Linked DNA regions of Homo sapiens: region 1 is linked to region 2. Evidence: fine-mapped expression QTL. Tissue or cell type: whole blood. Region 2 holds a variant in brackets; the other region holds the start of a gene. All regions are shown on one strand. Distances are between the middles of the regions.

The links.
Region 1: it holds the start of MTRF1, and the variant in region 2 is fine-mapped to the expression of MTRF1 in whole blood (TOPMed, PIP above 0.99).

The regions. Positions count from the first base shown.
Region 1 is chr13:41,260,951-41,265,354 of GRCh38, reverse strand. It overlaps MTRF1 (mitochondrial translation release factor 1), which reads left to right and starts at 1,779. Exons shown (of 10, transcript NM_004294.4): 1 at 1,779-1,870. RefSeq lists a silencer at 1,484-1,573 and an enhancer at 1,861-2,361.
Region 2 is chr13:41,240,282-41,244,685 of GRCh38, reverse strand. MTRF1 (mitochondrial translation release factor 1) reads left to right here. Exons shown (of 10, transcript NM_004294.4): 6 at 4,253-4,404. Among named protein-coding and RNA genes, the nearest start is that of MTRF1, 21 kb to the left of the region's middle. The variant C/T (reference allele first, on the strand shown) is at 2,559.

The DNA.
Region 1 (4,404 bases), 21 kb before region 2:
CTGTCTCCTGGGTTCAAGCGATTCTCCTGCCTCAGCCTCCGAGTAGCTAGGATTACAAGCATGAGCCACCACGCCCAGCTAATTTTGTATTTTTAGTAGAGATGGGGTTTCTCCATGTTGGTCAGGCTGGTTTCGAACTCCTGACCTCAGGTGATCCACCTGGCTCGGCCTCCCAAAGTGCTAGGATTACAGGCGTGAACCACCACGCCCGACTAAGACTAATTTTTTAAGGAGAATAAAGCTTTATATATAATACTCAAGTTATATAGCTGAAAGCACAAATCAGAATAAATAATTAAAGAACTTTTTGGATAACTTAGGAGAATGACTTTATGTAGACCCTTTGAAACTTTTCCCCTACTGGAACATAAGCTCCATGTGGGCAAAGGTTTTTGTCTTTTCTGTTCATTGCTAAATCCTCATGACTAGAATAGTGAATAGCACATAACTGGTGTTCACTATTTATTGAATACATGATTGAAGGTTTTTTCTTTTTTGGAGCAGGGTGGCCCTATATCAGAGCTTAGGAGCCACAGATCATTAAAGCCATTGCCTTAATTGAGTCTTGGCTCTATCACTTACTGTTTTTTACCTTGGAGTAGTTACTTTAGCTCTGTGTGCCTTAATTTTCTCCTCTGCAAAATAAGTATTTTAAGGTTGTAAAAATTAAATGAATTAATAGGGTAAAACCATTTAGAACAGTATTTAGTACATAGTACATAGAAGTAGGTACCTTGAAGTTGGCTATAAACGTTAGATATTATTTTGCATATATAGCTAATTCTCCTATCTATGTATGTGATTATAATCTAAGAAAATACTCTGTAAAGTCAGTAATATGGTACATTTTTTGCCTTTTCTTTCAGGAAGAAAAATTGAGGCATGGAGATAGAAAGACTGTAAATTGCGATAGCCAAGGGCTGGATCCCACTGGATTAGTCAAAGTAGGACAATATGCTTGCATTTTCCTGCAATTGTTTATTAACTGGAGTTTTCATTCTTCACTTAATCAGTGGTTCATAAGCTATGAATCTAGGTTGAGCCCCTACATTCCCATGTGCAAAGAACATTATAAAATCACTAACATGTGGAAATACACGGTCTCCTAACTTTTGGGGCTGTTACTACTTTTAAAATATAAATTTATTTGTATTATCCTTTAGTCATTAGGTATTTTCTGAAGCAATGGAAGCTGAAAGTATAGAAATTACACGCAGAATCTTCTACATTTGTGGATGATGTAAAAGGAGTCTTTATTTTTTTTAAATATTGGAAAACAGTGCTTTACGGGCTTCTAATACATAAGGAAATTATTGTAATTTCACATGCAATGTGTTCTAAATCTTGATCTCTTAATCAGAATCGTAAAGAATCTCTCTTCTAGGTTTGCAGTTAACGGTGAAAACCAAAAACTCCACATTTGGCTGGATAGTGAGTGGAGGGGGTTGGAGGCTGCCGCAAGGTAAACTACAACTCCCAGGATTCTTTGGTGGGCGCTCTGGGAGTTGTAGTTTAGTCCCACCTTGGCCCCTCCCTCCCTCCCTCCCTCCCACCATCTCCATCCCCGCTCTGGGCTCACGCTCTGGATAAGGACGGCGCGGGGGCGGTTGTCTGATGACAATTTCATTCTCGTTTTGTCATTTTTCTCATTTAGCTCATTTTTGTCATTTTAGTCCATTGTTAGGCATGCTCGAGGACAACTCCTCCGGAGAGCGGTAGTGGCGGAGGAGGGGCCGGGAGCGTGCGTTAACCCGGAAGAAGTGAACCAGGAAGTGAACGTGATCTCGGGTTTGTCGGGCTGAAATGTGGCGGGTCTCGGAAGGTTCCGACCTCAGTAAAGAGAGCTAACGTGTATTCTTCTTTTTCTTAGGTACTCACAGTTCTTTCCTGATCTTCCCCGCCGCCTCCTGTATTGCCTCTTTATGGAATCACTCCATATACTGAGTTACACAGCATGGTTTGCCCGTGCTGCTGCCCCGCGGGCTGTCGCTTCTGACCTGCCTACACTCAGAACTTTCCCCAAAGCATCAGAGTAATACTGTTACTGTGATGGGTAATGGAGAAGTCGTGCTGTTCTCAGGTGTAGTTAACCTTGGAGAGTAAACATCTTGTTTTGTTTTGTTTTCCTTAATGTTGAGATTCATGACCTTGAAAATTATGCATTCTACTACTGTTCCTAAAATGGAAATTTTAGCAATAAGTATTCGTACAAACATATATTTGTCATCCTTTTATTCTGTCTGTTAGCAAATGGATACACTTTCTCTAACGTGCTTGAAATACGGGGGTGGTGGAGTGTAACGTTTGTGACAGCTGGCCATTGGTGCTTTCTTCAACAGTTCTTTTAATAATGTGATGCAGTATCCTAAAATCTATCAGTAGAACTCTGGAAACTGAATATTTTAAAGACCATTCTGACTATTTTATTTCCTAGGTGATAATGCTAAGTTAACAGACTTATAGTGAACAAATGAGCTAATATATCAATGCACCTCCTAGCATAGTAGGATCACTGGAGACAGTAAAGTTTGATTTTGATAAATGTTGATCCTTCTTTTTTTGAGTTGAGTCTCACTGTGTTGCCCAGGCTGGCCTTGAACTCCTTGGCTCAAGTGATCCTCCTGCCTCAGTCTCCTGGGTAGCTGGGACAATAGGTGCATGCTACTGTGCGTGGCTTGACCCTTATTTCAACTTTGAACCTTAGAGTTTTCTTAGAACACTTTATATTCTCCCTTTCTTACTCAGTAAGACCATTGTGTACTTTTGTTAGCTCTTGATTATCTCTGTTGGAGGGGAGGAGAACAGAAAATTATTGTACACAGCCAATTTCACCTAACCTGTAATTTTTTAAACTAATCTTTTTTTATGATTAGGAAAGTATTCCATGCTACATGTGCAAGAAACTTGGAAAACACTGAAAAGTAGAAAAAATAGCAAGCAAAAGGTATTCATAATCTCACAACTAGAGATCATTTTATTAACATTTTGGTATGTTTCTTTTTTTTTTTTTTTTTTTGAGACAGCGTGTTGCTTTGTCGCCCACGCTGGTTGCAGTGGTGCGATCTCAGTTCACTGCAACCTTCGCCTCCCAGGTTCAAGCGATTATCCTGCCTCAGCTTCCCGAGCAGCTAGGACTACAGGTGTGTGCCATCACGCTCAGCTAATTTTTTTGGTATTTTTAGTAGAGATGGGGTTTTCCCATGTTGGCCAGGCTGGTCTCGAACTCCTGACCTCAGATGATCTGCCCGCCTCGGCCTCCCAAAGTGGTAGGATTACAGGCGTGAGCCACTGTGCTCGGCACATTTTGGTATGTTTCTTATTTAACTTTCTTTTTAAAAAATACTCTATGTGCTTTTTTTTTTTTACATGTATACCTTATATTGTAGAATATTTTTTAAATGTAATTGAGATTCTATTTTGTTCCTTGCCTTTCTTGCTTAATATAATTGTCACCATTTAATATAACTGTAGAGCTTTTCACCAGCCCTACTTTCTTGGTCTATTAATACTTGAACTTTTCTTCCTTTAGGATCTCAGCTAAACGGGAAGCATTTTTGAAAAGTGATTGCACAATTGAGAGTGAAAATTACTGAGTCCTGAACAGGCAACTTACATTCTAATACCAGCTCTGTCTCCATCCAGCCGACTGAATAGTCGTGATTAAGTTACTTGACTTCCTTGGATATCTAGATCCTTAAAGTTAAAGAATTATACAAGATAATAATATTTTCTTCAAACTTTAGAAAATGACTTTATGAACCGCCTTAAGTTTGTATGTTTTCATAGCTTTCAAGAGCTTGTTTACACACTCAATTCTAGATTCTAGATACTTTCTAGAAAATAACTGACTTAACTCATTCAATTGATATATTTGTTAGTTGTACTCCTACTCATATGCTTCAGTTAATTATATATGTTGAACAGGTAGGAAGCAGTGCTGTTTTTATTTATTTTAATATGTTATTCATACATTTGAAGAATTATGTTCTTTCTGTAGGCAGCTGAATTTTTTTTTTTTTTGAGACGAAGTCTTGGTATTGTCCCCCTTGCTGGAGTGCAATGGCATGATCTCGGCTCACTGCAACCTCTGCCTCCTGGGTTCAGGCAATTCTCCTGCCTCAGACTCCTGAGTAGCTGGGATTACAGGCGCCTGCCACCACGCCCGGATAATTTTTGTATTTTTAGTAGAGACAGTGTTTCACTATGTTGGCTGGGCTGGTCTCGAACTCCTGCCCTCAGGTGATCCGCCTGCCTCAGCCTCCCAAAGTGCTGGGATTACTGGCGTGAGCCACTGCTGCCAGCCGGCAGTTGAATTTTAAGACTGTGGAGCTGGCTGAGGCAGTAGATGAAACAAGATTTCTTGATGTTCCTTCCAGGTTTATTATGCATGTATCTTTAGAGATG
Region 2 (4,404 bases):
TAGCGACCTGTTTCTCCCAAGTAAGTGATGCAAGATGGAGGCCATGGTTCTTTATAATCTAACCTCGGAAGGTGACATAGTATCACCTCTGTCATACCATATGCTATTGATCATACAGACCAGCTGGGAGGGAACTGTAAGGGTATGAATACCAGCAGGCAGGGATCCTGGGGGGCCACCCTTGAGGCTGCCTGTGACAAATACTAACATCTATATTTCCAGAGAACTCTTCTGAAATAGAAATAAAAGATTTGAAACCATGTGCACATCTGAAAATACCCAGCTAGAACGACCAACACTAAGACATAGGCTAATAAAATGTTTGGACTTACAAAAAAGGGAAAAGACCCATTAGGCACGTAGAAACAAAGACCTTGAGACTTATAAGGCAAGGATTAGATTTCCTTCAGACTTTTCAGTAACAACACTTTGTGCCAGAGAGAGAGTTCACTGAAAGAAAGAAAGTTGAGTTAAGGATTTTATAATAAGCAAAACTGACTTATAAATGTGAAGGGAACAATTTGTTATCATTATGCAAGAATTCAAGAAATACTCTTCCCATGATCCCTTTCTGAGGAATCTACTAGAAAACAAGCTTCAGACAACTGAAATGAGAGATAGCAAAATAAGGAGTAGGGGTGAACATTAAATATGCAGTTACCTGAAGAACTGGGACTAATTGAGGGCTAAGGGGAATAAATTTGTTACATAAGGACTGTATGATCTGACAGTATAGATATAGTACAATCATTTGAAAAATGGGAGGCAAATGGCAAGAGCATATGCAAAAAAGTTTTAATGTTTTTAGTAATTGTATTGGTAGAACTAGTATTAGTATTCTGAGACTGTTAGGTGTGTAGTGTAATATAAAAACAGATAAGTAATTTTGGGATATTTTAATTCTAATGCCCTCTCTTTGAGAACCAAGATTCTTGGTATGGGAAGAAATACAATAAAAGTGTGGTAGAAAAGAGGTTGAAGTTGAATTTAAATTGGAAGTGTCAGTTGTAAAAACTCTGAAAGGTCTGAGATTTTACCCTACTTGCAAGCTAACAAGTTAGCCTGCTGCTGTTTCATGGGTCAGCAGTGAAGGACAGTTTATTACTCAGGGTTATAGCAGTAGCCAGAGTATTAGCATTTTTGTGCCAGTTCCCTGAGCCCAGAGTCCCACAGGGCAACAACTAAGAAGACCAGATGATACCTGCCCACACAGTAGGTTGCATTATAGGAGAAGAGCACTGAACTTAAGGAAATTGAGTCTTTTTTTTTTTTTTTTTTTTTGAGACAGGGTCTCACTCTGTCTCCCAGGCTGGAGGGCAATGGCACCATCACAGCTCGCTGCAGCCTCAACTGGGCTCAAGCCATCTTCTCATGTCAGCCTCCCAAGTAGCTGGGACTACAGACACGTGCCACCACACCTGGCTAATTTTTTTATTTTTATTTTTTTTAATTTTATTTATTTATTTTGAGATGGAGTCTTGCTCTGTCATCCAGGCTGGAGTGCAGTGGCACGATCTTGGCTCACTGCGACCTCCGCCTCTCAGGTTCAAGCGATTCTTCTGCCTCAGCATCCTAAGTAGCTGGGATGACAGGTGCGCGCCACCACGCCCAGCTAATTATTGTATTTTTAGTAGAGACATGGTTTCATCATATTGGTCAGGCTGGTCTCGAACTCCTGACCTTGTGATCTGCCCGCCTCGGCCTCCCAAAGTGCTGGGACTACAGGTGTGAGCCACAGCGCCTGACCATAATTTTTGTATTTTTTGTAGAGATGGAGTTTGACTGTGTTGCCCAGGATGGTCTTGAACTCCTGGGCTCCCGCTGTCTGCCCCCCTCAGCTTTGCACAGTGCCAGGATTACAGGCATGAACCACTGCGCCCAGCCATTTTTTTTAATGCGCAGTAAGCATGCTGCACATTGCTCTAGAAAGAGACACTATCTCTGTCTTCCAAGGCTGTGGAAACTTGTCCTTTGCTCTGGAGGGACACATTATTTCCAAGGCTGTTCACTACACAAACCGCCTTTAAAAGATATTTTAGAGCGAAATAGCCAGCAATGCTTCATTTGTAAGATGTGCAGGAACACAGGAGACCCATGGAAAATTGGGTCTCAACATCATATGAACTCATGAGGTATTTCCTATTTCTGGCCACTGAAAAGGCTTAGAAATTATAACCAAATCCAGTAGTAGTGGACAACCCTAGCCCCCAAATTGTGATTTTCAAATACTATTTTTCTCTTGAACCAGGGCTTTTTGGAGACATGGCTGATTCCAGGTCTAGGGTAAAAAATGTTCAAGATAATCCTGGAATATCTTGTTATGCCATACAAATGGGGCATGTCCCATACAAATGGGGCATGTCAGAAGAATTCAGAAGTCAATTTGAAGAGGCTCTATGGGCCAACGATGGGACTAGTTGAGCTTTAATAATAATTGTGCTTGATTTAAACGTGCTAGATGTGTTTCAATCCTTGAGTTCATAATGATAATTTAAACTTTTAATTGGTCATCTTCAGAGGATTAAAATGAACCAGTTCAGTATATTACAAAAAAAAAA[C/T]GTTGGTATCTTGGTAGAACTGATAAAAGGGACAGAATCAAACATTTATCTTGCTTTTCCTATGTAATTGTATCACCATGTAATCAAATGGTAGACAAGGGGAAGTGTCTCTTTATTAGTGTATTTTAACTAATAAGTGAGAAAGGAATGATAGAATTAGACTTATCACCATTTTGTAACCCCAGTGATGCATTCAGTGTCAAAGCCTGTCAAGACTGTAAAAAGAGAGACATCCAGACACCGTATACCTCCTGTCGTCTTGCCAAAGGGCTCGAGCTGGTGTCTGATCCAGTGTCTGCATCCAGCTGCCTAATTGCTGCCGATACAGAGGGCAGCAGAACAGGGTGACTTGCACCAAGAATATGCAGTCTGCAAAAACAGACTGTTGGAAATTCTACAGGTCAGCAGCCCAAGTTCTTCACCAGATCATTTGTAGGAAATGAAAGCAATGGATGATGAGCATGTGGACTAATAGACTAAAAAGATACATCAAACATTTTTAAATGGGCAGGACTAAACTGTAGCGCCTAGGGCTACACGTTTAGGTAATGAAGTTATGATAAAGAAAGGAATAAAAGTCAGGATAATGATTACTCATAGGGAAGAGAGAGGATTATGTCTGGAAATGGCATTTGGGAGGGCTTATGAAGTGACTAGCACCGTTCTTTTTCTTGACCTGAGTGGTGGACTCTAAACCACATATTTGATTTGTGTGTTTTTCTGTCTTTCATATATTATTGTATCATAAAAAAGATTTTTAAAAAAACATTAGATAAGAACAAGTGGCCGGGCATGGTGGCTCACGCTTGTAATCCCAGCACTTTGGGACCCCAACGCAGGCAGATCATGAGGTCAGGAGTTCGAGGCCATCCTGGCCAACATAGTGAAACCCCGCCTCTACTAAAAATACAAAAAATTAGCCGGACGTGGTGGTGGGTGCCTGTAATCCTAGCCACTCAAGAGAACGAGGCAGGAGAATCACTTGAACCCAGGAGGCAGAGGTTGTAGCGAGCCGAGATTGCACCACTGCACACCAGCCCCAGTGACAGTGCAAGACTCTGTCTCAACAACAACAAAAAAAGAACAAGCTAGCCTAGGTGTTAAGATTCTTTGTGATACTCTTCCCACTCCATAGATAAGCAAGAGCTGACTTTCAATAAATTCTTGAAAATTTGGGAGGATCTGTAGAGTTATTCAACAGTATGAAATTATTCTCCTATTGAGCATTCTTTTATATATGATACCCTATTAGCCTAAGACTACACAGGGTAGTTCAATACAGAAAACATCCCAGTATTATTTTTTTGTTCTAATAGTAGTTTTCCCTTATTATAAAAATAAAACTTGTTCATTATAGAAAATTTGGAAATAAAAAAAGTATTATTCTATTCCCCAGACATAACGAAATAATATTTTGGTATGTTTCCTATTGTTGCATCACTAGCTCCTATAATTAATTACATTTTGGTATGTTTCCTTTTGTATTTTAATACATTTACATTGGAAAACTGTAGTTTTGTGCATACTTTATGTCCTCTTTTCTTCTTCTTCTTCAGAGGCCCTCGTTCTCCCATGCTTTATGTTCTCATCTTAGGCTCTGTACTCAACATTCAGGCCTTAGATTAAGGACATTTAGGATCCTGATCTGTTTCAAAGGATAATTCATTACTATTTCTGGATTGTTGTTCCCCTAGGTGGACTACATCATGCAGCCGCCCGAATTTCCGGTGACGGTGTCTATAAGCATTTGAAGTATGAGGGTGGGATTCACCGAGTTCAGCGCATCCCCGAGGTGGGCCTGTCCTCAAGGATGCAGCGCATTCACACAGGAACGATGTCGGTTATT